4 separate regions of the Homo sapiens genome follow, and regions 1, 2 and 3 are each linked to region 4. Evidence: fine-mapped expression QTL. A gene starts in region 4. Each other region holds a variant in brackets. All regions are shown on one strand. Distances are from middle to middle.

The links. PIP is the estimated chance that this variant, and not a neighbour inherited with it, causes the effect. A credible set is the group of variants that fine-mapping cannot tell apart.
Region 1: its variant is the best candidate, but not a certain one, in a credible set for the expression of AVL9 in whole blood (INTERVAL, PIP 0.66).
Region 2: its variant is the best candidate, but not a certain one, in a credible set for the expression of AVL9 in blood mononuclear cells (TOPMed, PIP 0.53).
Region 3: its variant is the best candidate, but not a certain one, in a credible set for the expression of AVL9 in thyroid (GTEx, PIP 0.82).

What each region holds. Positions count from the first base shown.
Region 1 is chr7:32,781,534-32,789,641 of GRCh38, forward strand. No RefSeq gene overlaps it. Among named protein-coding and RNA genes, the nearest start is that of LINC00997, 27 kb to the left of the region's middle. RefSeq lists an enhancer at 6,516-7,017. The variant C/T (reference allele first, on the strand shown) is at 4,274.
Region 2 is chr7:32,676,605-32,684,712 of GRCh38, forward strand. It overlaps the pseudogene DPY19L1P1. Among named protein-coding and RNA genes, the nearest start is that of MIR550A2, 52 kb to the right of the region's middle. RefSeq lists a silencer at 1,100-1,300 and an enhancer at 3,994-4,752. The variant C/T (reference allele first, on the strand shown) is at 3,262.
Region 3 is chr7:32,741,778-32,749,885 of GRCh38, forward strand. No RefSeq gene overlaps it. Among named protein-coding and RNA genes, the nearest start is that of LINC00997, 12 kb to the right of the region's middle. The variant A/G (reference allele first, on the strand shown) is at 4,497.
Region 4 is chr7:32,491,755-32,499,862 of GRCh38, forward strand. AVL9 (AVL9 cell migration associated) reads left to right here and starts at 3,735. Exons shown (of 16, transcript NM_015060.3): 1 at 3,735-4,048. The coding sequence starts at 3,956. It also overlaps a transcript of LSM5 not described here. RefSeq lists enhancers at 3,249-3,458, 3,532-4,330, 4,331-5,129 and a silencer at 3,549-4,198.

The sequences.
Region 1 (8,108 bases), 290 kb after region 4:
AAAGAAAGAAATTCACCAAAAGAAAGGAGTAATAGGCACCACACAAGTCTAAAACCAAGCAGGACAGTCATTGCATTTAAAGCTCCAAAATAATCTCCTTTGACTTCATGTCCCACACCCTGGTATGAGGGGTGGGCTCCCAAGGCCTTGGGCAGATCCACCCCTGTGGCTTTGCAGTGTACAGCACACATGGCTGTTCTCAAGGGTTGGAGTGGAGTGCTTGTGGCTTTTCCAAGCAGAGTTTGCAAGCTGCCAATCTACCATTCTGGGGTCTGGAAGGCAGTGGCCCCCTTCCCATAGATCCACTAGGCAGTGTCCCAGTGGGGACTCTGTGTAGAGGCTCCAATCCCACATTTCCCCCTGCCATTGCCCTAGTAGAGTTTCTCTGTTGGGGCTCCACCCTGCAACAGGCTTCTGCCTGGGCACCCAAACTCTTCCATAATCCTCTGAAATCTAGGTGGAAGCCTCATTCATGCTTACATTCTGAGCATCTGAAGACTTAACATCATGTGACAACTGCCGAGGCATGGCTTGCACCCTCTAGAGCTGCAGCCCAAGCTGAACCTTGGTCCCTTTGAGTCATGGCAGAAGCCAGAGTGGCCAGGATGCAGGGAGCAGTGTGGCAGCACAGGGAAGCAAGGCCCTGGGCCTGGCCCCCTAAGCCACTTTTCTCCTAGGCCTCTGGGCCTATGATGGAAGGGACTGCCCCAAGACTTCTAAAGTGCCTTCAAGGCCTTTTTCCCATTGTCTTAGATATTAACACTTGGCTCCCTTTAGGTCAGGCTAATCTCCCTAGCAAGTGGTTGCTCCACAGCCTGCTCGAATTTCTCTCCTGAAAATGATTTTATTTCCTGCACATGGCCTGTGTATTTGTCCATTTTCATGCTGCTGATAGAGACATACCCGAGACTGCATGGTCTATACAGGAAAAAGGATTTAAGGGACTTACAGTTCCACATGGCTGGGGAGGCCTCACAATCATGATGGAAGGCAAGGAGGAGCAAGTTATGTCTTACATGGATGGTAGCAGGCAAAGAGAGAGAGAACTCCTCTTTATAAAATGATCAGGTCTTGTGAGACTTATTCATTTTCATGAGAACAGCACAGGAAAGACTTCCCCCCATGACTGAATTATCTCACACTTGGTCTGTCTCACAACACATGGGAATTCAAGATGAGATCTGGGTGAGGACACAGCCCACTCATATCAGCCAGCATGAAAATTTTCCAAACTCTTAAGCTCTGCTTCCCTTTTAAATATAAGGTCCAGTTTCAGGTCATTTCTTTGCTCGCACATATAAGCATTGGCTGTTCGAATCAACTAGGCCACTTCTGGAACACTTTGCTGCTTAGAAATTTCTACTGCTAGATACCCTAGGTCATCACTCTTAAGTTGAAACTTCCACAGAGCCTTAGGGCCTGGACAAAATGCAGCCAAGCTCTTTACTAAAGCATAACATGGGTGACTTTACTCCAGTTCCTAATAACTTCATTTCCATCTGAGACCTCATCAGCCTGGACTTCAATATCTCTATCAGCATTTTGGTCACAACCATTTAGCCAGTCTACAAGTTGCAAACTTTTCTTCATCTTCCTGTCTTCTTCTGAAACTTCGAAATTCTTCCAATCTCTGCCCATTACCCAGTTCCAATGCTGGATCCACATTTTTAGGTATCTTTATAGCAATGCCCCTCTCCTCAGTACTTATTTTGTATTATGCCATTCTTGCATTGCTATAAAAAAGTACCTGAGGCTGGCTAATTTATAGAGAAAAAAAGGTTTAATTGGCTCATGATTCTGCAGGCTTTACATGAAGCATGGTGCTGGCACCCGCTTCTGGGGAGCCCTCAGGGAGCTTACACCATGGTGAAAGGTGAAGGGGGAGCCAATGTGTCACATGGTCAGAGCAGGAGCAAGAGAGAGACAGAGGTATCACACTCTTTTAAACAACCAGATCTCACATGAACTACCAGAGCAAGAACTCACTCTTCACCAAGTGGATAGGGCTAAGCCATTCATGAGGGAGCCACCTCCTACCAGGCTGCCCTTCCAACATTGGGGGTTACATTTCAACATGAGATTTGGAGGGGACAAACATCCAAACCATAACAGAGATGAATGCCAAGACAGCTGGACTAGGTGGGGCAAGCCAGGAACAGGCTTCAGAAACAGCCTAGGCAGGAGGCAGGAAGACAAGACGGCAGGAAGCAGTGCAGAACAAAGCAGGCTCCTCATCATTCAACCTCCCCTGAGTGCAGCAAAGGGGCCTTATTGTCAGCCCCTAACTGATCATTGATAACTAAAGTTACAACAACTCATACCTGTAAGGGCCATGGTGAGTTAGAGCTGGCAAGAGCCCTAATGATACACAGTCTTCTCTTGAAAGAGGAGAAGACTGAGGCCCAGAGAAGTGAGTAAATTTCCCAACAAGCAGAGAGTTGAGACTGGAATCTGGCTTCCCACCCCAGCCCAGTGCTCTTGGAACCAGAGGACGGTCCTCACCCAGTCAGCTAAGGGGAGCCTTGGCATGCTGGCCACCACCAGCCCAGTGATGCTAGGAAAGTTGCAGTGCTTATCTATCTGTGTGTGCCTCCCTTTGTTCAAATGTAATGTAGAAACAATAATACTGCCTTTCAGGATCTTCCTGTAAGAATTAAATTACTTAATATTTTAAAACATAGTGGTGTCATATTTGAGCTCACATTACCCTAAGATTCACCCTACCATCAGGCTGCTACAAGGAATTCAAAGATTCCTGGGTAGAGACCTGATGAAAATGGGCACCGGTTAAAATAAAAAAAGGAGGGATAATTTGGGGGTGGGGGTGTCATTTACATTGTCCCCAGGTCCTACCCCTGGAATTGCGCAAGGGCCACAATAGTCAGAAATGGATTATTTCATGGGATGTTCAATGAAACCTCAGTTAAACCGTGAGACCATCTTGTCTTATTGCTTAAAACCACTGAAAGCTGAAAGGGTTAGATTTATGGAGCTTCTGGGTAACATCCTCTGAGGACCCTAGGAATGGTGAATGAGGGAGGAAGGGAGTAGGGAGAGAATAATTTAAACAGAGCAGAGCCAGGCAAACTCTCCCTGCATGAGAAACTAACAGGAAAACCCAGGTCCCATGTGAGTACCAAGTTAAAGGACCCCAGCAGGCCATGTTGGTTCCCTTTCCCCTTTCTGGACTTACTGCTCCATCAAGGCTAAGCAGACCATTGGCTCTCCCTTTTCCTCTGTTCTCCTGGCTCCCACTACCTCTGCTTTTTTCAACAACAGATGTATTTTTCAAGGATCCTGCTCCTGGGAAGTACTTCTAGCACTTCACTTATCTCACCTGATGCACTATACCTAATTATCAGCTTAATTGCCTTCTTCCACCACTGACCAGTTACAATCAGGTATATTCTATCTTCGTCCCTGTGGCATTATCGCTCCAAAACAATAGTAGACACTGCATATTTATTGGATGAATGAGTTAATGAACGAATGCTTGGAACTCTTCCTGACAATCAAATTCAGGCCCTAGTCCCACACATAAGTAATTAAAAGTCGAAGTGACCATACTGAGCAAGTTCCTGAGCTCTTGCTAGTAAAAACAGGGCCCTTGGAGCAACATTGGTTTTTCTCAGAAGCTTATTAAAAATACAGACTCTCAGGCTGAATCTAAACTTGCATTTTAACAAGATCCCCAGATGATTCCCACACATTGAAGGTTAAGAAGCCCTGTTCTAAGGGGTAACGTCTTCCAGAGAGCTTAGCTGCTTCCAGTGCCCTACCTCAAGGGTCTGATTCAAGGAATGAGATGGAAGTCTGCAAATGCAGGCAGATCACTAAGGTTTCTGGCCCTGGGGCTCCATCATCAGTCTACCCTCCACTCCAGATTGGCCTAGAGATCCCCAAGTGTGAGGCAAGGAATCAAGCGCTCCCTGAGAGGGTGTCAAGCCCCAGCGCCTCCTGGAGGCCTCCAGCTGTGCAGAATCATGCTCTTGGCAGCACCTGGCTGCTATTGTTAGGAGAGAATGAGGAGCTGCGAGGACAGTGGCACTGTACATGCTGACTAAAAGGCGGGGCTCCTATCTGCATTTGGAATGACATACCCGATTCTATTTGGGAAGGAAACACAATGGCCCTTTACTACAGGATTTGAATGGCAGGAACCAGCTAAATGGACTAGGAAATGATTAAGAGACAAAAGTCAAGGCATTGTGTGTGCACCATGCTTAGCCCAGTCCTGAAAGCCCTATTATAATGGCCACTGTTCCTGTAGCCC[C/T]TCCTGAGCCCCACCACCCTCCTCAGAAACACTGTGGCTCCTTGGACACACTGCAAGGCCTATTTGTCTCTCCTCAAGGAAAAGGGTGGAAAGCTACAGCAAACTTTGCCAGGGACTGGGAGGGATGGTGAGGCAGGGAGAGATGAAGGGGCAAAAGACAGGTGGGACAGGAGGTGACAGCCATAGACCACAAGCGGATCAGGGAAGGATGCAGACGGCAGAATTTGCAAATGTTGTACTGCAGCTTGGAAGAGAGGAGAGAAAGAAGGGGGCAGGGAAATATCCACTGCTGTCCCACATCATGGGGCAGGATGTCAGGAAGCCCAAGTTCAAAACCCTTGCCCCACATACTGGCTATGTGACTAAGGCATTTTGCTTGTGCTTTCTGGATCTCCTTTTCCTGGTCTGCAACATGCAGATGCTGATATTAGCCGTATGTGGTGATATGCCAATGAAATTAACTGAAATGAAGCATAGGAAAGTGCTTAGCACAGTTCTTGACACATAAACTGTCAATTCTAGATCAGAAAGAACAAGAAATTGCTTCCTTTGCCTGTCAACTAGTACATACCGCACCACCCCAGTCCTGCCCATGTCACCCCCTGAGAAAGGCTTAAGGCATGATTCATCTCAACATATTAGAGGTTGGTGCAAAAGCTATTGCACTTTTTGCCATTACTTTTAATACAACCTAATATTTGTATTTAAGTGGGGACTTCAAAAGAGTCAATGGCTTCTGTTTCAAAAGAAACACTCGGCGGGGCGCGGTGGCTCACACCTGTAATCCCAGCACTTTGGGAGGCCGAGGCGGGTGGATCACGAGGTCAGGAGATCGAGACCATGGTGAAACCCCATCTCTACTAAAATACAAAAAAATTAGCTGGGCGCGGTGGCGGGCGCCTATAGTCCCAGCTACTTGGGAGACTGAGGCAGGAGAATGGGGTGAACCCCGGAGGCGGAGCTTGCAGTGAGCCAAGATGGCACCACTGCACTCCAGCCCGGGAGACAGAGCTAGACTCTGTCTCAAAAAAAAAAAAGAAAGAAAAGAAAAGAAAAGAAAAGAAAGAAAGAAAGAAAGAAAGAAAGAAAGAAAGAAAGAAAGAAAGAAAGAAAGAAAGAAAGAAAGAGAAAGAAAGACTCTCTAATCATGGAAATGGTATCAGGAGGTCCGAGAAGGACCTAGGCTGATATCTCTTGAGTCATGACCGCAATGGGACCACTTTCCTACTCAGCCTCTGTCTGAGACCATTGAATATGATCTGAATCCAGCTTTCTTTGAGCAAGGTTAGAGAGAAATGCTCTGACAGCAGAAAAAGACTTGGAATGCCAGGAGCTCTGCAGCATGACTCCAGCAGTGGGGGTCAGTGGGTGGCAGGAGTCACTGGGGAATCAGGCCTGGGAGAGTCAGGGCTGCAGGTCACATGGCAGAGCCTGAGTCCCCCATACAGACATACAACCTGGGCCTGCCCCCCACTCCTGGACAGTAGAGACCCGTAACCACTGCTCCATAGGAGTTGGGAAGTTAGAAGGTCTACATTTGGTTCATGAACCACAAGATGGGGCCACCAAGATGACAATCATTCTGATAGCCAAAAGGATCTGGATCTCAGCATGGAGAGTGTAGCCACTGAGCACTGATGAGCCACAATTCTCATGGGGTGGGGCCAGGAAGGTAATGTTCTGACAGGTGGTGGGACTTGGATGCATGGGGGTGTGGGGGTGGCAAGAGCACAGAGCCAAGCTGAGATCAAAATGGTGGCCCTTAGGGCCCCTTATCCAAAACCTGACACAAAGAGGGTGGCCCACTCCTGCCTCCTTGCAGACAGTCTTGAGGAGAGGGCAGTGGAAGACAAGACAAGGGCTTCTAGAGAGAGTGTGGCAGCCAGGCCGCGGATGTTGGGACAAGTGTCACTGCACTATTTGGGGGTCTGGGAAGGGGATGGAGGTCAGGGTCAGAGGCACAGCCTCAGAAAAGCTGGACGGAGCAATAGTGAGTGCCCAGGTAGCAGACTGCACATGCCTGATGAGGACTGGTCCACCCACTCAAGGAGTCCAGGGAGACCAGAGGCAGAGGGGTCAGTTGGCTGAGAGGCGGCCGTCAGGGTAGAATTGGTGACAGATATGGGAGAACATGTTGGTGCCCATTAGAATCATAAAACTGAAATGGCTGCAGAATCACTAGAGTAATTCTAAAGCCTCCAGGGAGGCTTTGAGTCAGGTGCTCAAAGATCCTGTCCACATTCAGCTGGAGTGGCCACAATGCCAGTCGTCACTTCAAAACAGACACCCAGAAGAGGCAGCAGGGCCCAGCCCTTAGGAAAGAGTTGGAGAAGATGAATGAAGCAGAGCTGTCACCCAAAATAAAAGGCTATTTGTGGTGGTATTAAGTACAAAGTGAAGAACCAAGGTGGGAGGTAGACTATATCTTATGAGAAATGACCACAGTGAGGTCACACATTCCTTCCTTTTATGCAAATAGGAAGACCCAGGTCCCTATACATTTCAATAAGCCTTTCTTCTTTCCCAGGGTCATCCCTCCCTGTAAGCTCCAGGAGGCTGCGCTAATGCTCTGCCCTCAAAGAGAGAACTGGAAGGGTATTTGGCCAGGTGTACCTTCCTGGGCTCTTCCAAGGTGACAGCTCTCACCCTGTGCTGCAGGTGGCCCTGTGCCTGGTGCCACTTCTCACTGCTTACCAGGGCACATGGACACCGGTGGTTCCCAAAATGGGTCACAGCAGGATGGCCTGCATCAGAATCACCAGGGAGGGCTATAAGAAGGCAGACTTCTTCTTTTTCTTTTCTTTTCTTTTTTTTTTTTTTTTTTTGAGACAGAGTTTACTCTTGTTGCCCAGGCTGGAGGGCGATGGTGCGACCTTGGCTCACTGCAGCCTCCACCTCCCAGGTTCAAGCAATTCTTCTGCCTCAGCCTCCCCAGTAGCTGGGATTACAGTTGCCCACCACCATGCCTGGCTAATTTTTTGTATTTTTAGTAGAGACGGGGTTTCACCATGTTGGCCAGGCTGGTCCCAAACTCCTGACCTCAAATGATCCACCTGCCTCAGCCTCCCAAAGTGCTGGGATTTCAAGTGTGAGCCACCGCACCCGGCAAAGAAGGCAGACTTCTAAACCTAGAAATTCTGATGCAATAACATGTAGGAAAGAGCCTAGGAATTTGCAAAAATGTTTCAACCCCCAGACAATTGTGAAGCACGGCCAAATTTGGAAAATATTGATCTACACAAAACAATGCAACTATCCAAATATTAAAAATGACTTCACAAAAGATAGCTAAGAGTTTGTGTCCAATTTTGTAAATATATAAGCAATATACATTGTGGTATATAATAAATGTATAACTCCGATTCTATAAACACACACACACATGCGCATATATCTGAGTTGTAGGATGATAGAGGTTTTTCTTCTTTATTCCTTTCTCAGTTGACTTTCTATAATAAACACTTATTCTGTTCATAAAGAAAATATGATTTTGTGAGTGCTGGGGAGCAGATTATGACATATTTGGACTCCCAGAGAGGCTTAGCTCAGATTCCGTGTGTGGGTTTCCTAAAAACGCAATGCCTCCCAGCGAGGCGTGCTGTCCCCTTCCTTTCTTCTGGAGAGTCTTCGTATGTGTTTGTTTCAATACACTCTTCATTCTGACTAGCAGACTGCACGGCTGGCTTTTGTAAATGAACACTCATTTCGCTCTATTAAATTAATATATTGACTTTTTTTTTCCACAGGAGTTAAGGAGGAGATCGGGGCTGGGGGGCTGGGCATGCATTCAGGATAGGGCTCTAGTCAGCAGGAAATGAAAGAGCTGAGCAAGGAA
Region 2 (8,108 bases), 180 kb after region 4:
CTGAAATCATGGAGATAAACCAGCCCCGCTAAAGCCTGCCCAAATTCTGGACTTGCAGAATCCATATGCATAATAAAATGGGTGTTGCTTACACCACTAAGTTTACAGTGTTAAGTTTATTATGCTGGATAAGTTTATTACGTTACAACAGATAACTGGACAATATTACAGAACGAAACTTACCTTCACAGCTTTCAGTAGGACTGAGTCCTTCTCCTCTGGTAACCGTCCGACATATCTTGGTTTGAATTGCAATGAAGTCCATTATTTTGGTATAAATCCAGTACCAGCTGGCCAAAATTACCTATTTTTAAAAAATATAGTGGTATCTTAAGAAAATATACCAAACAATTTTCATTACTAGAATACTTTTGAGATATTGTGACAATTGCCATATTTTCCCTTTCTGTACCATCCACTTGGCTCCCTTTAAATCTAGTAAAACGAGGCTCAGAATCTCCTAGGCAGATTCTTCACTGGTCAGTTTTCAATTGTTCATCCATGGGTAAGGACAAAATATGGGCCAAAAAAAAGTGCTAAGTTTATGTTTTTCAAAAACTATACAACTCTACTAAGAGATACAAAAGAGGATTTGCTCAAGTAAAAGATACTGGGTCTACTGGAATAGACCAAATTATTTAAGATTTGAATTCTCCCTCAAATTAATTGATAAACATAAAATAATTCTAATCAAAATTCCAAGTGCCTAAAATGTATCTAGAAAACTAACAAGAAAACTAAAGGGAATGTTTTAACAGATATTAAGTCTTATCACCTTTAATAATTAAAATAGTGTGATACTGGCACAAGAATGGCTAGACAGATCAATGTAGCCATAGTACAGGTGGTGATAAGCCACCCCAGATGCCCTCTTCCAGGCTGAGGCAATCATTCCTCCAGCTAGTTGGAAGACTGGTGCCTGAGAGCTCGAAGCTGTGTCCCTCCCTGGGAAGAAATTAAATTCACTCAAAGTGACACCCCCTACCCAAGGGCAATCTGCATCCAATGACGGACAAGTCAATAGGGAAAGATACCAGGGGCCCTTATGTCAAGGTAGGACAACTCTGCAAGGCCATCCCAGATCCAGAGCTGCCCAGGGACTGGATGAGGCCTTCACAGTGACTGCATCAAAGCTCTCCTCTTCCTCCTGCCTATTCTGCTTCATTCATCCCTCTTCAAGTGTTGACCCTAAGGACACTCCCTCAACTACTTCCTGCATGCAAATCTCCATCTCAAAGTCCACTTCCCATGACCTCAACCTAAGAAATACTGAGCACAAAATCCAGAAACACATGAAAGCACGTATGTATAACAATTTTGCACATAAAGAAGAAAGCTTACTTCAAATCAGTGGAGAGAGGATGGACACCTCATCAGTGTTAGGTTACACACAATACTATTTTCAAAGAAAAATTCAAGGTTAGATTCCTACCCCACACTATGCATCAAAACCAATTCCAGATAAATTAAAAATGTAAATTTAAAAAAAGTTATAATTATAAAAATGAAGTTTTTTACATGTATGTATAAAAGACAAAAAGATTCATAGATATATTTCTGTATAAAAAAATACACAGACATCATACACAAAGCTAAAGGGCAAACAACTGGGAAAAATGTTTTATTATATAGCATTATATTAATATCCAGTATATAAAATTTTAATAGAAATATAGATGAAAAGCATGAATTGGTAATTAATTTTAAAAGTAAAAATGCATTATATGTATATGTATGTGTGTTATACATACATATATAAAGAACACTGAAATATATCTATAATCAATGAATGAAATACATCATGTGACTTCAATTTCTTTGTCTATCCAATCAACAAAGATGCAGGTAAATAAATAGTTTCGAAAACACTCCTGGTGGATAGTTGAATATCTATCCGGAAGGTCTTCTGACAAAATCATTAAAGTATATATTCTACTGAACTAGAGTTCCACATCAACAAATTTATAGTTTTGCAAGGAGGATAAAGGAAAGGCCAAATGCCATCTCCACTTGCTGGATCGGGCTCACCTTCCCTCCACTCCCACTCAAGAAAGTGCACTTAATTAAATGAGGATAAGGAAGAAAACATTTAACAAATGACATATAAAAGTAACAGAGCTCCCTTAGTATAATCCTTGTAAGCACACCAAATCTAGTTTTTGTATTTTTTAAACAATGCAGTCACAACAACAGTTCCCCACAGAATTAAAGCCCCCTCCTCAAAATCAGTAATGATGTTTTTTACATATTCCTCCCCAAGATACATATTTTCTTTTAAAAAATTAAATACAATTTAATATATTGAATTATACCTTAGAGTTAGAATCAGCATTTAATTCAAAAAAGTTTTACAAAAGTGAAAAATCACAATTGGAAAAAGTACCTTACCTCAGGGTAAAGATTGAATCTTTTTAATGTATTAATAACAAGGGGGTATTCAGTCAGTTTATCATTCATAATCATCCATACTCCATTCAAAAATGAGGGTGTTTCCACAATAGTCTTGAAATAGGAATAATACAGTCCCTGAAATAAGGATATGCTCAGTTAAAATAACAAAAGGTACATAATTATGATGCCTCTTCGAAGTAAATATACTGTTTTTGAAAAACAAAGCAATTAAGCAACTAATAGCTATTAAGACAATGAATTTCACAGGTTTCTGACCATTGATAAATCCTAAAGTTGCGAAAAAACTACGTATTTTCACATAAACTTGTCTTAATTGAAATAACTGAATGCAAAATAGCTTCAACAATAGTTTCAGCATTTAAAAAATAATATGACTCAGCATACTTCAACTTAGAAAATCCTATTACCCACACTAATATAACTGTTAGAAAATGCTATCTTATGAATAGAGTGAGTGGTTTCTTACGGAACTAAAATTTATCATTAACCAAGAAATCTTAAGCCAAAAATGCTCCTCTAACTGCTTATGTTAATCCCCAAAATGACACTATCAATCATTTTTCCTCCGGATTTACATGGAAAAATGCAAATGTGTTGAGAAGGCTACTCACTGATGTATTATTACATATGAATTTCACTCGGGTGCCACCTAATTTTGCAGATTATTTTCCCTCCTATCAAGTCAGCATAAGGTAAGAACCCTGCGTGACTGGGGATGAGGGTGGGGAGTGGTCCTATTTTGAAGAAAAGAGTTTTTTAGCTTGGCACACTGCTTTGGAAAGATAGCAAGGGTGGAAAATTACGTGAGACAAAACAAGAAAACACTAGAAGCCTAACGGAGAGTCTAAG[C/T]GGCAGTATGAGGGAAGACAGAGAAACACAAGATAAATCTACGTCTTGTATTTGCATCTTCAGTTTTGTCTGGAGCTGCCCTGGTAGCCAGTACCAGTAGCTGCCAAAGTTTAAACCGGGTTTAAGACTCACAAATACAAAAGTGAGATGCCTACCCAGAAATTTACTGAAAAAGAAAAAAATGGTCTTGATACTCTGATGTATTAGCTCTGATATCACTATTTTTAAAATTATGTTTCCTTGTGAACTGATTTGGATACTGTCCCCTAAAATTTCATGTCCACCAGACCCTGTGGATTGATCTTATTTGGAAATAGGATTCTTGCAGACGTGATCAAGATGAGGTCATATTGGATTAAGGTGGACTCTAAACCCAACACAACTGGTAAATCTAAATAAAGAGGAATATTTGGCCTCAAAGCTACAGGCACACAGGGGAAAAGGCTGTGTGAAGATGGATCAGAGACTGCGGTGAGGCATCAGCATGCCAAGGAATTCCAAGGATGGCCAGCAGCCATCAGAGGCTGAGAGGAGGCAAGGAAGGACTCTCCCCTCCAGCCTTCAGAGACAAGATGCCCATCAACACCTTAACGTCCCACTGCAAGTCTCTGCAACTGTGAGAGAATACATTTCTGCTGTTTTAAGCCACCTAGCTTGTTGTACTTCTTTATGACAGCCCTAGGACACTATACCTTCCTTCTTTTGTAGGTTTGCTTTTGGAAACATATCAAAAATTTAAAAATCCCTAAATATCAAAATAAAAATGAAAGAAAGGAATGAACTATTTATCAACTTGGGAGAAGATTTCAAATAACATTAAGATACTGTAATTTTACTGTATATCCCTAGTGGACTATATCCTAAGGTTAAAATGGAGCCCAGGAATCTGGCACGACTGGTTTCACAAGTTACAGGTCACAAAGACCCTGCTGATAATACAGGATGTGGTAAAGAAGCCGGCCAAAACCCGCCAAAACCAAGATGACAACTAAAGTGACCTCTGGTCATCCTTATTGCTCATTATAATATATTAGCATACTAAAGGAAACTCCCACCAGCAGCATGACAGTTTACAAATGCCATAGCAACCTCTGGAAGTTACCCTATATGGTTTGAAAGCGGGAGACACCCTCAGTTCCAGGAATTCCCCTCCCTGTTCCCAGAAAACTCATGAATAATCCACCTCTTGTTTAGCATATGATGAAGAAATAACCTTAAAAACAATCAACCAGCAGCCCTCACAGCTGCTCTGCCTGTGGAGTAGCCACCCTTTCATCCCTTTACTTTCTTAAGGTAAACTTCTTTTCACTTCACTCTGTTGGAGCATTCTTGAATTCCTTCCTGCCCAAAGCCAAGAACCCACATGGCCTCCTGGGCTCAACCCCAATTCTGGGGGTTGCCCTGTGAAGAACCAAACTGCACGAAAATCTTAAACTCTTTTCAGTAATCACATAAATGATGGCTATTATTATTATTTTTAGTAGTATTTGACTATCCATTTATTCCATGACCATTGCCCGGGTTTCCAATGCTCTTCAGACTTATTTTTCTTTGATCACACGTCAGTGAGTCCATGGCCAAAATGAGTCTATCTTTGGCCCTACTCTCACATTCAGATATATTCTACACTTTCACCTGAACTTGGGATACTCCATGGATTGCTGGTCCTACCTCAATTATTTTTCCTGCTTGTTCTCTGCCTTATTTGTCCTTCTACTTCCTGAGCCCCTAATTTATTCATGTGAAAAAGCAAAATTGCACAATGTAAATTCTGTGAGAACAGCTTCACTCTAAGGTAAATTATAATGTCTTGTATTATTCAGGAAATGACTGGATGTTGATGTTCATATATATCATCTACTAAAATGATAGAATGAATGCTTTAGACACTCTAGAAATAGATTGTTCTATTTTTCTCTACTTGACTGATGATTTCTTGGGATCAGAACAGATATTCACAATATTAAAACCACAGTAAATGGTTTTGTGGTTGAAACCAATGACAAATAATTTTTTGTCTTTGAATCTGATGTCCTCCACATGTACTCTCTGGGATGGAAATTTCTTTAGTGGTACTGTCAAAAGAAGCATCAGAGAGACATTAGACAGAGATGACCTTTCCATGAATTTTAAGAGGAAGACTCTGATATGGTTTGGCTTTGTGTCCCCACTGAAATCTCATCTTGAATTGTAATCCTCAGGTGTCAAGGGAAGAACCTGGTGGGAGGTGATTGGATCATGGGGGCGGTTTCCCCCATGCTATTCTCATGATAGTGAGTGAGTTCTCACGAGAGCTGATGGTTTTAAAGTGTTGTACTTTCTGGTGCTCTCTCTCTCTCTCTCTCTCTCTTGCCTGCCCCATGTAAGAAGTGCCTTGCTTCCCCTTCACCTTCCACCATGATTGTAAGTTTCCTGAGGCCTCCCCAGCCATGCAGAACTATGAGTCAATTAAACCTCCTTTCTTTATAAATACTCAGTCTCTGGTGGTATTCTTCATAGCAGTGTGAAAACAGACTAATACAGAGAATTGGTACCGAGGTAGTGGGGCACTGCTATAAGAATGTGGAAGCAACTTTGGAAATGGGTAACAGGCAGAGGGTGGAACAGTTTGGAAGGCTCACACGAATACAAGAGGATGAATGAAAGTTTGGAACTTCCTAGAGACTTGTTGAATGGTTTCGACCAAAATGCTGATAGTGATATAAATAATGAAGTCCAGGCTGAGATGGTCTCAGATGGAGATGAGTAACCTATTGGGAACTGGAGTAAAGGTCACTCTTACTATGCTTTAGCAAAGAGACTGGCAGCATTTTTTTCTTTTTTTTATATACTTTCAGTTTTAGGGTACATGTGCAAATTGTGCAGGTTAGTTACATAAGTATACATCTGCCATGCTGGTGTGCTGCACCCACTAACTCGTCATCTAGCATTAGGTATATCTCCCGATGCTATCCCTCCCCCCTCCCCCCACCCCACAACAGTCCCCAGAGTGTGATATTCCCCTACCTGTGTCCATGTGATCTCATTGTTCAGTTCCCACCTATGAGTGAGAATATGCGGTGTTTGGTTTTTTGTTCTTGCGATAGTTTACTGAGAAGGATGATTTCCAATTTCATCCATGTCCCTACAAAGGACACGAACTCATCATTTTTTATGGCTGCATAGTATTCCATGGTGTATATGTGCCACATTTTCTTAATCCAGTCTATCATTGTTGGACATTTGGGTTGGTTCCAAGTCTTCGCTATTGTGAATAGTACCGCAATAAACATACGTGTGCATGTGTCTTTATAGCAGCATGATTTATAGTCCTTTGGGTATATACCCAGTAATGGGATGGCTGGGTCAAATGGTATTTCCAGTTCTAGATCCCTGAGGAATCGCCACACTGACTTCCACAATGGTTGAACTAGTTGACAGTCCCACCAACAGTGTAAAAGTGTTCCTATTTCTCCACATCCTCTCCAGCACCTGTTGTTTCCTGACTTTTTAATGATTGCCATTCTAACTGGTGTGAGATGGTATCTCATTGTGGTTTTGATTTGCATTTGTCTGATGGCCAGTGATGATGAGCATTTTTTCATGTGTCTTTTGGCTGCATAAATGTCTTCTTTTGAGAAGTGTCTGTTAATATCCTTTGCCCACTTTTTGATGGGGTTGTTTGTTTTTTTCTTGTAAATTTGTTTGAGTTCATTGTAGGTTCTGGATATTAGCCCTTTGTCAGATGAGTAGGTTGCGAAAATTTTCTCCCATTTTGTAGGTTGCCTGTTCATTCTGATGGTAGTTTCTTTTGCTGTGCAGAAGCTCTTTAGTTTAATTAGATCCCATTTGTCACTTTTGGCTTTTGTTGCCATTGCTTTTGGTGTTTTAGACCTGAAGTCCTTGCCCATGCCTATGTCCTGAATGGTAATGCCTAGGTTTTCTTCTAGGGTTTTTATGGTTTTGGGTCTAACGTTTAAGTCTTTAATCCATCTTGAATTAATTTTTGTGTAAGGTGTAAGGAAGGGATTCAGTTTCAGCTTTCTACATAAGGCTAGCCAGTTTTCCCAGCACCATTTATTAAATAGGGAATCCTTTCCCCATTGCTTGTTTTTCTCAGGTTTGTCAAAGATCAGATAGTTGTAGATATGCAGCATTATTTCTGAGGGCTCTGTTCTGTTCCATTGATCTATATCTCTGTTTTGGTACCAGTACCATGCTGTTTTGGTTACTGTATCCTTATAGTATAGTTTGAAGTCAGGTAGCGTGATGCCTCCAGCTTTGTTCTTTTGGCTTAGGATTGACTTGGCGATGCGGGCTCTTTTTTGGTTCCATATGAACTTTAAAGTAGTTTTTTCCAATTCTGTGAAGAAAGTCATTGGTAGCTTGATGGGGATGGCACTGAATCTATAAATTACCTTGGGCAGTATGGCCATTTTCACGATATAGATTCTTTCTACCCATGAGCATGGAATGTTCTTCCATTTGTTTGTATCCTCTTTTATTTCCTTGAGCCGTGGTTTGTAGTTCTGCTTGAAGAGGTCCTTCACATCCCTTGTAAGTTGGATTCCTAGGTATTTTATTCTCTTTGAAGCAATTGTGAATGGGAGTTCACTCATGATTTGGCTCTCTGTTTGTCTGTTATTGGTGTATAAGAATGCTTGTGATTTTTGTACATTGATTTTGTATCCTGAGACTTTGCTGAAGTTGCTTATCAGCTTAAGGAGGTTTTGGGCTGAGACAATGGGGTTTTCTAGATATACAATCATGTCATCTGCAAACAGGGACAATTTGATTTCCTCTTTTCCTAATTGAATACCCTTTATTTCCTTCTCCTGCCTAATTGCCCTGGCCAGAACTTCCAACAC
Region 3 (8,108 bases), 250 kb after region 4:
GTTTGTTTGGCTTCATTCTTTTGTTAGATATTTTCTTTAAATGTTTGGTGATCTTTGGCCTACTCCTGATACTTTTAAAGTGGGGGGCACTAAAAAGCAAATTGGAAGCTCTCTGTGCATGTAATGTCCTCTGTCTGGGCCATTTTCTTAGGAATATTACTGTCTTTTCTCTTGGGCTGGTCATATTTTCCAGAAATGGCTTTTCTTGCCTGGAAGACACAATCGTTTCTGCTAGTGGTCTAGGAGCAGAGTAAGAATAAGATTGAGAGTCTTAATACTCAAAGTGATACTTTCATTTAATCTCCATATTTAGTATCAATACAGGACCTCTGCCTTCAGCTATTCCTGTTGTCTGCAAGTCTAGAAACTTTTCCCTCTCCTAATAACAAATTTGTAGTAGAGTGCCAGGGTTGGGGTTGCTTAGCTGCTGCAAGTCAGGGAGGACAACTGGGAGATCTCACGGCTTCCACACAGACTGGCGATGAATCTTTCTCTTTTAGGCCTGCCTTCACCCCTGCTTCCAGAGATATCTTGTGCTTGCCAATTCTTGTGCCTGCTGTAAAGCAGTTTGCTTCTCTGCTTTCCTAGTTCTGCAGTGAAAATTATTACTCATTAATTTTCTTTCCAGAGTCTAAAGGTACTGCTTTTTATTTCATCTTCTTGAATTTTTTATAGGCGTATTCCCTTTAAAAATTACATTTTTATCATTTTAGTAGGATGTTTGGACTGAGCGGAAGCTAATGAATGTGTACAACTAATTATCTTTACTTAGAAGTTTTCTTTTTTTAATTGCAGAAGAAATAAGAATTCGCTCCTATAAAAATTTAGATGATGCAGCTGGGCGTGGTGGCTCACGCCTGTAATCCCAGCACTTTGGGAGGCCGAGGCGGGTGGATCACCTCAGCTCGGGAGTTTGAGACCAGCCGGACTAACATGGTGAAACCCTGTCTCTACAAAAATTAGCCGGGCATAGTGATGCATGCCTGTAATTTCCAGCGACTCGGGAGGCTGAGGCAGGAGAATTGCTTGAACCCAGGAGGCGTAGGTTGCAGTGAGCTGAAATCGCACCATGGCACTCCAGCCTGGGCAACAAGAGCGAAACTATGTCTCAAAAAAAAAAAAAAAATTCAGATCATTCAAAAAAAGTGAAAGTCACTTTCAGTCCTCTGGTATGAACATGTTCAACTAGTCCTCTAAGGAATCTAATGGTTTTCAAGCTTTTTTTTTCTTTTTTTTGAGACAGAGTCTCACTCTGTTGCCCAGGCTAGAGTGCAGTGGCACCATCTCGGTTTACTGCAACCTGTCTCCTGGGTTCAAGCAATTCTCCTGTCTCAGCCCCCCAAGTGGCTGAGATTACAGGTGTGTACCACCATGCTTGGCTAATTTTTGTATTTTTAGTAGAGACAGGGTTTTACCATGTTGGCCAGGCTGGTCTCGAACTCCTGACCTCAGGTGATCTGCCTGCCTCGGCCTCCCAAAGTGCTGGAATAAAGGAACTGTGTATTAACATGTTAACAATTCATAACTGCACTTCTTATGACATTTTGAAAATCTATGTATAGTTACAGAACAATGGGTTTTGTTAAACTATCACATTTATACTTGCAGAAATTATTTCATCATTATTAGTAGGAATTTTATTGGTTCAATAAAATTGGCAAAACTGAAAAAAAATAGAAATTTATATCTTACAATTCTGGAGTCTAAGAATTCTGGAGTCCAAGAAAGTCCAAGATCAAGGCGCTAGCAGATTTAGTGTCTGGTGAAGACTGCTCTCCACTTCCAAGACGGTGCCTTGATGTTGCATCTTCTGAAGGAGAGGAACACCGTGTCCTCACATGGCAGATAGTAGGAGAGTAAGAGAGCTTTAGTCACACTCATGAGGGGGGAGTCCTCATGGCCTACTCACCTCTTGCAGGTCCCATCTCTTAATACTATCACATTGGCCATTAAGTTTCAACACCTGAATTTTGGAGGGGACACATTCAAACCATAGCAGTGCCCACTGGCATTTCTGGATTGCCAGCCTCTTTAACTCCAAATCTGAGAAAATGAGGCACAAAGAGAGCCCATGGAACTCATAACCATGTTATTCTTTGGGTCTCAAGTCTGTCTTCTCTCTACTTTTCAGTCTTCTTATGTTTGATTTGTATATAACTCAAAGGGTTTTCAGTTGTACTTCAAGGGAGTAATCAGGAAAAGTACATCCACTCCGTCTTCCCAATAGCAAACATTTGTATTACTTAAATATTTATATATCGTATAGGCAAGAGAGAAGGCAATGCTGTGAGGGAAATGTATGGCACTAAAATGAATATGTTAGAAAAGAGGAAAAAAATCAATAATCTAAGCGTCCAGTTAGGAACCTAGGAAAAAAAGAGCAAAATAAACTGAAAGCCAGTAGAATCAAGGAAATAATAAAGAGTAGAAATCAATGAAATTGAAAATAGAAAAATAATAGAGAAAGCTGTATTAGTCTTTTTTACATTGCTATAAAGAAATACCCGAGGACTGGGTAGTTTAGAAAGAAAAGAGGTTTATTTTTGCTCATGGTTCTGCAGACCGTACAAGAAGCATGCATGGTACCAGCATCTGCTTCTGGTGAAGACCTTAGGAAGCTTATAATCATGGTGGAAGGCGAAGGGGGAGCAAACAAGAGAGAGAAAGTTTCCAGTGGGGAGGGGGCAGGTCAAGACAGAGGGAGCAAGAGAGAGACGAGTGAGGTCCCAGATTCTCTTAACAATCAGATCTCACATAAACTTACAGAGGGAGAACTCCCTTATTACTGTGGGGTGGGAACCACGTCATTCATGAGGATTCCACCCCCATGACCCAAACACCTCCCACTAGATCCCAGCTGCAACACTAGAGATCACTTTTCAACATGAGATTTGGAGGGAACAAATATCTAACTATATGAAAAGCCAAGGGAAAAAAGGAGCTGGTTCTTCAAAAAGGTCAATAAAGTTGACAAACCTCTAGCAAGACTGACAAAAAAAGAGAAGACACGAATTATCCATATCCATGTCAATGAAACAGGGGCTATCACTGCAGACTCTGCATACATCAAAAAGATAATAAGGGAATACTGTAAACAACTCTACACACTTAAATTTATCAATTTAGATGGAATATACCAATTCCTTGAAAAACTCAAACTATTGCCATAAATAAAATCAATATAAAATAGATCATTTAAATATTTCTATAACTATTAAGAACTTGAATTCAAATGTAGAAATTCTTCAAAAAGAAATCTCTAGACCCAGGTATTTTCACTAGAGACTTCTGCTAGAGGTTTAAGCAATCATTAACATCAATTCTATACAATCTCTTCTGGAAAAGAGAAGAGGAAACACTTCCCAATTCTTTACCTCAAACTATTATTACCTTGATACTAAAACCAACAAAGTACCAACAGTATCAAAACAAAGTAAACTTCAGACTAATATCCCTTGCGAATATAAACACAAAATTCCTAAACAAAATTGCAAAAATAGATTTCAATAATATATTAATTATATACCATGACCAAATGAGGTTTTCTTCCAGGGATGCAAGGCTGTTTCAATATTCAAATACATCATATTACATGTTAACAGGCAAAATAAGAAAAATCACATAATCATATAAATTGGTACAGAAAAAAAATTTGAAAGAATTCAATACCCATTCATGGTAAGAACTCTCAGGAAAAAAAAGAAATAAAAGGGAGATTTTCTCAACTGTGTAAAAATCACGTGCAAAGAACTTGTGGCTAACATTGTGCTTAATGATTAAATACTGATGCTTTCTCCTAAGGCTGACAACAAGGCATGTATGTTCACATTCACCACTTATTAAACACAGTGCTAAAAGTTTTAGTGCAAAAGGCAAATAATGGAAATAAAAAGCATACAGATTAAAAAGTAAGAAATAAAACTGTCCCTATTTGCCCATGCCAGAACTATGTAAAAAATCCCAACAAATCTAAAACAACAACAAAAAGATAACCACAACAAAATTCGTAGAACAAGTGAGTTCAGCAAAGTTGCGTGATAAAAGATAAACATAAAAAATGTATTTTATGTGCTAATGATGGACACCAAAATTAAAACTATAATTCTATGACATGAAAAACTTAAATGTATATCTAGCAAAATACATATAAGACTTAGATGATCAAAACTATACAATGCTGATGAAAGGAATCAAAGGTGATCTAAATAAATGAAGAGATATACCATGTTCATAAACTGGAAGATTCAGTAAAGATGTCAGTTCTTCCAAAATTGATTTACAAATTTAATGCGATTCTTATCAAAGTCCCAACAAGATTTTTGTAGATATAGCATGTTGTAAAATATATATGAAAAGGCAAAAAAGAACCTAGCCAAACCAATTTTGGAAAAGAATAAAGTAGGAGGAATCAGGCTACTTGCTTCTAAGACTTACTGCATAGATGCGTTAATTAAGACTACTGGCCAGACACAGTGGCTCACACCTGTAATCCCAGC[A/G]CTTTGGGAGGCTGATGTGGGCGGATCACTTGAGGGCAGGTGTTCAAGACCACATTGGCCAACATGGTGAAACCCAATTTCTACTAAAAATAAAAAAGTAGCTGGGCGTGGTGGCATGTGCCTGTAATCCCAGCTACTCAGGTGGCTGAGGCAAGAGAATTGTTTGAACCCAGGAGACAGAGGCTGCAGTGTGCTGCGATCATGCCACTGCACTCCAACCTGGGCAACAGAGTGAGACTCAGTCTAAAAAACAACAACAACAACAAAAACCTATATGGTATTGGCAGAGGGGTAGATGCATAAATCAGTGGAAGAGAACAGAGAACCCAGAAATAGACCCATACAAAATATGTCCAATTGACATATTTGGCAGAGGCACAAAAGCAATTCAGTGAAGGAAAGAAAGGAAAGATCCACTTTCAACAAATGGTGCTGGAGTAATGAACATCCATATGCAAACAAACAAACAAACAAACAGAATCTTGACCTAAATTTCATTCAAAATGGATCAGTTAGATATAAAATGCAAAACTCTTAACCTTTACAAAAAATACAGGAGAAAATCTTTATCTCTAGGGCTAGGCAAAGAATCCTTAGACTTGACACCAAAAGCACAATCAATAGGAGAAAAATGGACATACTGGACTTCATAAAAAATTTAAAATTTTTCTATGCAAAAGACCCTGTTTAAGAGAATGAAAAGGCAAGCTACAGACTGGGAAAATTTTTTGCAAGCCATATATATGAAAAGTAATTAGCATTTATAATATATAAAGAACACCCTAAGATCCAAAATTCATAAAACAAACAATTCAAATAGAAATGGAGCAAAATACATAAAGACACGTTTCACATATGGACGGCAAATAAGCACAAAAAGATGTACATCATCATTAGCCAATAGGGAAATGTAAATTAAAACCATAATGATATATCACTACATATGTGTAAGAATGAGTAACATAAAAAATAGTGACAATACCAAATGCAGGTGAGAATACAGATAAACCTAATTTTGGTTGTGCTTAGGTTGTATCCATTGACTACTGAGTATGTAGCAGAAGGAAATTTGCATAGTTTCATTCATTCAACAAATATGATATTGAATCAACTCCATATTCCAGGAAGTAGGCACCTGGGATACAGATAGGAAATACATAATGGGCATGGGAAAACAGTAGAAAACAAGGTCATTCGCTGAGCATGAAAGGGGGAGAGGAGGTTTGCGATAACTGGAGAGAGAAGATATAAAACAGGCGTCAAGGGGTTAGCAAAAGTAAGGCTCAAGAACTAAATCAGGATCTGTGGCCTATTTTTGTACCAGTAATGTGAAAAGGACAGTGTTTTCCCCCAGCTTTCCCGCAGCAGTTTAAGCTAAGAGAGTTTAAGACTTACAGGGGAGATAAGGAAGAGGGGGGTGGGTGGGTTTCATGCCTTTCTCTAAGTGGCTGCTGTTCTCCCAGGCTTTACCATGGAGGATGCTTTCTGAGCACTCTTGCTAATCTTTTGTCAGCACCTTATGAGCTCTGTGTAAAAATGTCTGTAAGCAATTGCAGATTCCCTTGCTAACCCATACTAGGCATTTACCGACTGACTGGTGAACAATTTGAGCTGAGTTCTTTACCATTGTGTCTAGTGGCATGACCCGTATAATTAAATGCTTGTTTCTGTTCTTGCACATGGTTTTTCTTTTTAATTTATTTTGGGTTATTTGATTGTCCTGTGACCTCAGCTCCCTGACTGCTTCAGGAAAAGTTGTCAATTTGAAGACTGTCTGGCTTTTGTTGTTGTTGCTGCTGACATTGCTGGAAGGCCATGAGCAATGTTCTTTTTGGCTTTCTACATCCAAGGGAAAGCTGACCCAACATGATTAAATCCAACTCTCCATTTTCTCCGTGTTTATACTTGGGAATCTGATTATAGCTGGAGAAACACAATTCTGTTGGCTGGTTTTGTTCTCAGTTCAAGACCATCAACCTCAAATGAAGCCCTTGGTGCTGCCCAAGAAACTCACATTATATCCCTAGTCTATTCATTCTGTTAGAAAAGAGATCAGCAAGCTTTTCCTATAAAGAGCCAGACGATAAGTATTTTAGGCTTTGTGAGATAGTCTCTGTCTCATACTCTTTAATGTGTTTACATTTACCCCCAGGTTTGTATATGCATGTTTGGTTTGTTTATCTATTCATTCATGCATTTGTTTGATATTTATCCTTTTTGATGTTCTCTGAGTTTCTTGGATCTGTGGTTTGGTATCTGTCACTAATTTTGGAAAATTCTCAGTCATTTATTTTTCAAATGTTTATTCTTCCTCATCCTTTCCTCTCCCACTGGGATTCTAATTACGCATGTATTAGAATATTTGATATGGTGTCACAGCTCTTAGATGCTCTTATTGTTTCCTTCCTCCACTTATTTTTCTCTTTGCATTCCTATTGACCTATCTTCATACTCACTGATTATTTCTTCTGCTGTGCTGTGTCTGCTGATGAGCCCATCTAAGGCATTTTTTACTTCTTGTTTTTATTTCCAGCATTTCCCTTTGATTCTTATAGTGTCCAACTCTCTGCTAAAATTATCTATCTGATCTTGCGTATCATCTGTCTTTTCCATTTGGGTGTTTAAAATATTAATCATAGTTACTTAAATCTCCTGTCCAGTTGTTCCAGTATCTGTATCTTCTTGGGGTCTGGATGATGACTGCTCTGTCTCTTCGGACTGTGCTTTTTCTTACCTTTAGGTATGCCTCATAATTTTTGCTGAAAGTTAGACATGTTGTATAAGACAGTAGACATAGAGGTCAGTATTTTTATGCTTGAAAATAAGAACATCTTTCTTACTGTTAGGTCTTTATTGTAGGTATTTGTGTTAATCTAGTTAGGGTGGGCGGGATTTGAAGTTTGTAATTGCTGTAGTTACCAAAGCTGGAGTTTGTTGCTGCTATGGATACTAGCGATTTCAAATTCCTCTAGTGGTACCCTGTTTTGAACTTGGTTTTGGGCTGTCCTTTGTGCTGCTCCCTAGAAAGAAAATGCCTTGCAAAACTCACTCAGTCACATTCCACTGTGATTTTTACCAAAGGCTTGTTAATGTAATGGGCGAAGAGTGGCAGGTTTTCTGATGTTCCAGTTAAGCCTCAATCTTAGACAGGTACTGTGAATTTGGGACTTGGGGGCTGTACCCTTCATAAGTGTTCCCTTCTCAAGGAATATGATTGTTTTTTAACATTTAGGTTTTTTTTTTTTCTTTTTTCCTGCCTGTTCTCTTTCACCAGCTTCACTGGATACCCACCAGTGTCCTCAGACAATGGGTTTGATACCGTTCTCCCTGCAGATCATGGCTTTCTTTTCCTTAGGAGAGATTTCACAACTTGGGTGTGAGCAGAGTCTGAGCAATGATTGCTTTTCCTGTCCCCTAGCCAGCACCATAGGGAAAGCTTTCTCTAAATGCTTCCCCAATCTTCCCTGACAGAGCCTGCTCGCCTTCACATTTCATGCCAGCTCACACTAAGCCTGTAGCAGTTCATTAAAAATTTCTGGTTTAATCTTTGTACCAGCTTATATGGCATTCAAAAGCATCTATCTCAGTCAAGCCGTTCCTATTCCAGAATGC
Region 4 (8,108 bases):
TTTTAAACATGAGCTGTTATTACTTATCCTTGTTTTCTAATACATGATGTCTGGCTCAGAGTGAAGCTACATAAAGCTAGCATTGCTAGCTGGTTTTGCATTCATCTTATTTTTATAACCAGACATAAGCCACTTTAAGGAAGCAATTTCTTATTTTATACACTGTGCACACTACATTTTCAGGCACACTGTAGGGCGCCTAATGAATATTCTTTAAATTGATTCTCACTATTTCATTCACACCCATCAACATTCTCCTTACTCTTCATAAGATTTTAAATACGAAGTAATGCCAGATTTGTTTGTGACGCTTCTTTCTTTCTCTTTCTCTTTTTTTCTTTTTGTCCAATCCTCATTTGGTTGAAAACCACCTCTTTTCCTGGTTTTCCTTTTCTATTCCTATTTTATTTTCCCCATACCATACTGACAGTATGGGAGAATTCAAAACATTGTTGTTATTTGATAGAGTTTTTAAAAATTAGAAAAATAGGCTGGGCACAGTGGCTCACGCCTATAATCCCAACACTTTGGGGGCCGAGGTGGGCGGATCACGAGGTCAAGACATGAAGACCATCCTGGCCAACATGGTGAAACCCCATCTCTACTAAGAATACAAAAATTAGCTAGGTGTGGTGGCACACGCCTGTAGTCCCAGGTACTCAGGAGGCTGAGGCAGGAGAATCGCTTGAACCTGGGAGGCAGAGGTTGCAGTGAGCCAATCGTGCCACTGCACTCCAGCCTGGCGACGGAGTGAGACTCCATCTCAAAACAACAACAACAAAAAAAAAACAGAATAAACATTAGCAATTTTGAATGCCACTAATAAAGAATAAAGAAAATCTCTTTAGAATCTGAAAAAAGGAACGATATATAGTTCACTTACATAGTAGAGTTAATGGGGATTTCAGGGAGTGGTATTTTTATTATTTTCTCTCCTGAGGCAAGACACAAAAAGGAAGAACAGGCCAATTCCAAATGGAGAGTTGTTATGAACTTGAAAATATGTCATAGCTCTATGTCTCAAGGATTTTTCTCCCTTTAAGTCTTAAGTAGAAGACGTAAAATAGAATTTATAATTTATCATAAAATACATGTAACTACCAAAGGCTCTTCCATGTATTATATGTTCAGAAAGGCATTTCTAATTTTCTCCCTCGAGTTAAATTAGAAATTTTATTATTTTCCCAATAGACATTTGTCCTTGTGGACAATATCTTGTTAATGAATTTATTCTACATTAATACAACTCATTTAAAACATAATGTAAGATGTGCATGGTGGCAGGCAACTGTAGCCCCAGCTACTTAGGAGGCTGAGGCAGGAGGATCCCTTGAGCCCAAGAGTTTGAGGCCAGCCTGGGCAACATAGCAACACCCCATCATATTTTATTTATTAATTTAGAGACAAGACCTCACTCTGTTACCCAGGCAGGAGTACAGTGGTGTGCTCGCGGACTCAAGCAATCCTCCCATCTCAGCCTCCTGAGAAGCCAGTACCACAGGCGCGTGCTACCAAGTCTGGCTATTTATTTTTTATTATTTTTTGTAGAGATGAGGTCTCATTACATTGCTCAGGTTGGTCTCGAACTCTTGGACTCAAGTGATCTACCCACCCTGGCCTCCCAAAGTGCTGAGATTACAGGTGTGAGCCGCCATGCCCCACCTATATTCTAAATTCTTAAGTGGTCCAGTCTGTGTATTTAGAGATGAAAAAAATCCTGGAAATTCCCTTGTTCACTTTCTGTCTCAATTTTCCCAGTAACTAACTTTTTCTTTCTCTCTCTCTCCCTTTCTTTATTTTTTTGAGATGGAGTCTCATTCTGTCATCTGGGCTGGAGAGCAGTGCAGTGACACCATCTCAGATCACTGCAACCTCCACCTCCCGGGTTAGGGTGATTCTCTTGCCTCAGCCTCCCTAGTAGCTGGGATTACACACACCACCATGCCTGGCTAATTTTTGCATTTTTAGCAGAGATGGGGTTTCACCATGTTGCCCAGGCTGGTCTCCAACTTTTGGCCTCAAGTGATCTGCCCGCATCGGCCTCCCAAAGTGCTGGGATTACCAGCATGAGCCACCACGCCTGACCCTCTTTTTATATATATCTTTTTTTTTTTTAGAGGAAATCTCGCTCTTGTCCCCCAGGCTGAAGTGCGATGGTGCAATCTTGGCTCACTGCAACCTCCACCTCCCGGATTCAAGCAATTCTCCTGTCTCAGCCGTCCGAGTAGCTGGGATTACAGGTCTAATTTTTGTATTTTGTACTAGAGAGGGGGTTTTACCATGTTGGCCAGGCTGGTCTAGAACTCCTGACCTCAGGTGATCTGCCTGCCTTGGCCTCCCAAAGTGCTGGGATTACAGGCGTGAGCCACCACACCCGGCCCTTATATACATCTTTAAAAGGTGTTCAATTAGACAGTAATTTTAGCCATGCCAATTGTGGAAAATATCAAGACAGGTTATATCAAGAAAATATTAATAGTTAACACATCACACAGCTGACAGCTCAAAACAGTTAATATATTAAGAAAACAGTTAATATATTCTGCATACAGGGAGCAATATAGTTTTACACAGTTTTCTTAGCCAATGCCAATAATTTTGTAATACAGAAAAGAAATGTATAGCAGCATCTTGAAAAATGTCTGCAGTATTAGCATTAAAACAGTTCTACTGAATCACAGAAACTAAATTTGATTTAGGAAGCCTACTGTTTTTCTCAGCTATGGTTAGATTAGAACAGAGCTCCTTACTTTTCAAGACCAGAAGTGCAAAATATCACAGTTACTGTAGTAATCTCGAATTCTATTTGAAGCAGACACCTATCCTTTAGGTTATTTGAAAACTGTCCTAGATAAGACTTGTTAAATCTTTTCTATAATGCACTTTAAATTGACATGAGATTCACTGCTTAAAAAAGAATTGTAGTACAATCAGTAAAGGAATTAAAAAACCCTGGTGACAACAGAGCCCATATATTTTGTATTGACCAGAGTACTACACCCAAAATGAGATGGAATGAAAAGAATATTCTTATAAAATCGCAGGACTAGAATAATCATTTTACACGTATCCAAGTAAACTTCCTTTGTTGTCAAGGATATTCTGTTTCAGGTTTTAAATGCGTCTCAGATTCCTACACATAATATTTAAACGAAGAAAAAAAAACTCTAGAAAGAAACAAACAAGAATTCTCGAGTAAGCAAGTAATTTAAAGGCTGAATACACAGATACGCAACCTCACCAGTATGCTCCATGTTACTACATATTTAAGAATAAGGACGGGGGCCACAGAGGCAAAGGCAAGGAGGTGAAGGAATCGGACACTCGGAGAGTGAACCGAAAAGATGTGAAAAAGCAAGGAAAACAGAAGAGAAGAGGGAAGTGGGAAAACTTTGAGGAAAAAGAGAAGGCAAAAGAGAAGGAAGTGCTTTGAGATTGAATCCAGGGAGGAAAAAGCAGGTGTGCCACGCCGCACCTCCAGGTCCCGCGGACACCACAGGCTCTGCAAGCCCAGCCGCCCGGGTCACGTAAGCCCCACCCCGCCGCTCCTCGTCAAGTCCCACCCGGACCCGCCCTCCCCCCGCTCCTCCCCCCGCTCCTCCCCGCCCCACAGAGTCGATCTCTCCTCTCCTAGACCCACCCCGCTCCCCCAGGCTCCACCTCGGCCTCTCAGACCCCGCCCCGTCAGGGCCCTCCCGGCCTTGCCCAGCCCTGCCTCGCCGGCGGCGGCCGCCGTGTCAGGTGACAGCCCGGAAGCTGCGGAAGCGGATGAGGGAAGGGCGGCCGTGGCCCTGGGGGCGGCGGGAGCTGCTTTGCCTCCACCGATCTCCCTGTGCGGCCCTCATGTGCTGTGCTCGCTGACACCCGAAGTCCGCGGCTTTCCGCACACGGTGGGGTCGTCAGACCCGCTGCCCTTGGCGGTCGAAGTCGTCGTGCGGGCCCGCGGCGGCCGCCCATGGAGAAGGCCAGGAGAGGCGGGGATGGCGTCCCCCGGGGGCCCGTACTGCACATCGTGGTGGTCGGATTTCACCACAAGAAGGGCTGCCAGGTGAGGAAAGGGCCCGCCCCCGCCCCCAGCCGTTCGGGCGTTCGCCCCTTCCGGGGCCCCCCTGCCCTGCTTCTGTGTGCTCAGCTCGCGTCGTGCAGTCCTCCCCACAGCGCCTGCGACCCTTCGCCTCTCAACCTGACTCCTTTTGCAGCTCCTCCCACCCGCCCCACATGAAGCCCAGCCCCCACAACCTCTTCCTTCTGCCCCTGAAAAATGGTTGAGCAGCGGAGGAGCTGGTTGATACGTGTAGGTTGTAGGTTTTTAACTTCTGCTTTGGTGGAGTGGGAGGAAAGCATCGAAGACCGGCCCCACTCTCTTCCCCGTCCATCATTGTCTCCACTGGCTTTCTGGGTGTCCACCTATAATGGGAGTCTAGAAAAATTCAGTGCTTGGACTCTGCTTTCAAGGTAATAGGCTCAGTGGGCTTGCATACTAATGCTTCAGGTAGCTTGCAGCACATGCAGCCTCCGTAGAAAAATCAGCTTCCTTTGTTTATCTGATGGAAGCCTTGGAATCTCTCCTGTTAGGTACGGTTGTCGATTGACTTTGCCTCCCCCTTCCCATTGGTCCTTAGTTTTGCTATTTCATCTTCTCCAGATTTTGCCTTTTGGTGAGAGATTAATCTCTCCATATCAACCGCAATAAGAGAAAGTGTATTACCAAACCGTTCAAATATAAAGGCGTTTTTCAGCAGCCTCACTGAATCATTAATGCAGCATCTGAAATGGAATATTTGCAATCTATGTATTGAAGGCAAGAGAACAAAATAGAAACAGGATTATTTAATGAGCAAGCAAACACTGGAAGGGAATGATGTCATAATGTGCTAGTGAACAGTAAATTGAAATGCTTTTTTGAAGTATTAAAAATAGTAATTGCCACCACTAGCTAATGAAGCATTTAGTTTCTTGCATTCCACAGGAAATGTAACATTTTAGAAGACTTATTGGCAAAAATTAAGTTCTCTAGGGAATAAGAGAAAAGTGATGGGAGTGAAAAAATCGTGTTTGTGCGTAATTTTGAAATATATCCTCACACCTGGAATGCCAGCACTTTTAGAGACTGATATGAAAGGCTCACTTGAGCCCAGGAGTTTGAGACCAGCTTAGATAACAAAGGGAAACACTGTCTCCACAAAAAAATTAAAAAATTAGTTGCATGTGATAGCGCACTTGTAGTCCCAGCTACTCGGTAGGCTAAGGTGGGAACATCGCTTGAGCCCAGGAGGCTGAGGCTACAGTGACCCTTGATCCCACCACTGCACTCCAGCCTGGGTGAGAGAGCAAGACCCTGTCTCAATCCCAGCACTTTGGGAGGCCGAGGCGGGTGGATCACCTGAGGTGAGGAGTTCGAAACCAGCCTGGACAACACGGTGAAACCCCGCCTCTACTAAAAATACAAAATTAGCTGCGCGTGGTGGCACATGCCTGTGATCCCAGCTACTTGGGAGGCTGAGGCACGAGAATTGCTTGAAGCCGGGAGGCAGAGGTTGCTGTGAGCCGAGATCACGCCATTGCACTCCAGCCTGGGCAACAAGAGCGAAAAAAAAAGTTTTGGAAAGTGTGTGTTACATGCATAAGTCTTAGAATGACTGGTCTAGAATCTGTTCTTTATAACCTGTACATCAGGTGTTTTCAGAGGCTTTAATTAAAGTATGTAAGATTTGCCCCAGGATAGATTAATCAGCTACCTAATTCTCCACTTTAACTATTTTACTTCCAGGTGTAAATTAAAGGTGCATGGCTCATTGAGTTGTGACTCTGACTTAACACGGTTTTAACTTGTGTGAGGGTACTTAGACTGCTCTTCCAAGTATTCAAAATTGCCGTGGGTCATGTTGACCATTAGTTCTTTTTTTTTTTTTTTTTCTTCAGATGGAATCTCACTCTCTCACCCAGGCTGGAGTGCAGTGGAGCTCGGCTCACTACAAGCTCTGCCTCCTGGGTTCACACCATTCTCCTGCCTCAGCCTCCCGAGTAGCTGGGACTACAGGCGCCCGCCACCGCGCCCGGCTAATTTTTTGTATTTTTAGTAGAGACGGGGTTTCACAATGTTAGCCAGGATGGTCTCGATCTCCTTACCTCGTGATCCGCCCGCCTCGGCCTCCCAAAGTGCTGGGATTACAGGCGTGAGCCACCACGCCCAGTCATGACCATTAGTTCTAAATGTGCGCTGAGATTGTGCATAGGGAAGATTCCTATACTTGGTCGTAATTTGTAACTTTTAAATAGAAGTGACTGAAGTAAAACCTTTGTTTTAAAAGTGATGCCTTTCAGCAGTCCGCTTGGTTAAGCATGATAACTTTGTCATTTGACATGGACCTCAAAGTAAAAGCCATCTTCTAATACTGCTGTGTTGAAGACCCAAAACTAGGCTTGTGGAAAATGTTAGTTCATTTTGTTTCTAGCACTTTTTCCACCTTTGAAGTCCTCAGATTTTTTTTTTTTTTTTTTTTTTTTGAGACGGAGTCTTGTTCTGTCACCCAGGCTGGAGTTCAGTGCAGTGGCGCGATCTCCACTCACTGCAACTTTCACCTCCTGGGTTCAAGTGATTCTCCTGCCTCAGCCTCCCAAGTAGCTGGGATTACAGGCATGCACCACCGTACCTGGCTAATTTTTTATATTTTTGGTAGAGACGGGGTTTCACCATGTTGGTCAGGCTGGTCTAGAACTCCTGACCTCAAGTGATCCACCCGCCTTGGCCTCCCAAAGTACTGGGATTACAGGCATCAGGCCAGATGTATTTTAAATGAAAAATTCCTTCATTTGAATTTAAATGAACATCTATTAACTTTATCACTTGATCTTTTTTTTTTTTTCACTTTTATTTGGGTAACTTGTGGAAGTAAATTCTTCTGTAGATAGCGTGTTAGCTTCTAGATGTCATTTTTCTAGTTTACTGATATACTTAACATTTAGAACATTTTAAGTGATTTTTTTGAGTTCTACCATAACATTTAAAGTTGTTTCAAAATATTTACTCATTTCAACTTTTTACTGAATTGTTTAAAATTTAATATTTAACAAGGGATAATAATTAACAAGGGATAATTTAACATTTAACAAGGGATACTAAGTGTGGCCGGGTGCAGTAGCTCATGCCTGTAATCCTAACACTTTGGGAGGCCGAGGCGGGTGGATCACCTGAGGTGAGGAGTTCGAAACCAGCCTGGACAACACGGTGAAACCCCGCCTCTACTAAAAATACAAAATTAGCTGCGCGTGGTGGCACATGCCTGTGATCCCAGCTACTTGGGAGGCTGAGGCAGGAGATTTGCTTGAATCTGGGAGGCGGAGGTTACAGTGAGCGAAGATCTGCCTACTGCACTCCAGCCTGGGCGACAATGAGTCCCTGTCTCAAAACGAAACAAAACAAAAATTTATCTGACATTAGACCCTTTGGCATGAAATAATTTATGGATACCTTCTCTGTAGTAAATTGGCTTGTTATAGATTGTGTATTCCAGAGTTTTGTTTGTTCCAATATATAAATTATACTTGTCGGACTACCAAAATTTTTTGCTAAGTAGCATCAAATATATATCACATTAACTCTGTTTTTTTTTTTCATAAACAGGTTAGAACTTTTTTAACTACTCAAGTTAAAAGGGAATAGGTTATTTTCCAAAGTGATGTCATAAAAAGTTGAAATAATTACTTAATTTTTGGCCACTTTTCTGATAGTTTATTGTTTTGTATACATAGCTAGCAGTTTTAAGTCTTAAGTAAACTGGATTTACCAAACTGTATTTCTAATACAAAAAAGGCAGAATAACAATTTTTTTTTTTAATTATACTTTAAGTTCTGGGATACATGTGCGAAACATTCGGGTTTGTTATATAGGTATACATGTGCCATGGTGGTTTGCTGCATCCATCAACCAGTCATCTAGATTTTAAGCCCCATATGCATTAGGTATTTGTCCTAATGCTTTCCCTCCCCTTGCCTCCCATCCCCCAACAGGCACCAGTCTGTGATGTTCCCCTCCCTGTGTCCATGTGTTCTCATTGTTCAACTCCCACTTATGAGTGAGAACATGTGGTGTTTGGTTTTGTGTTCC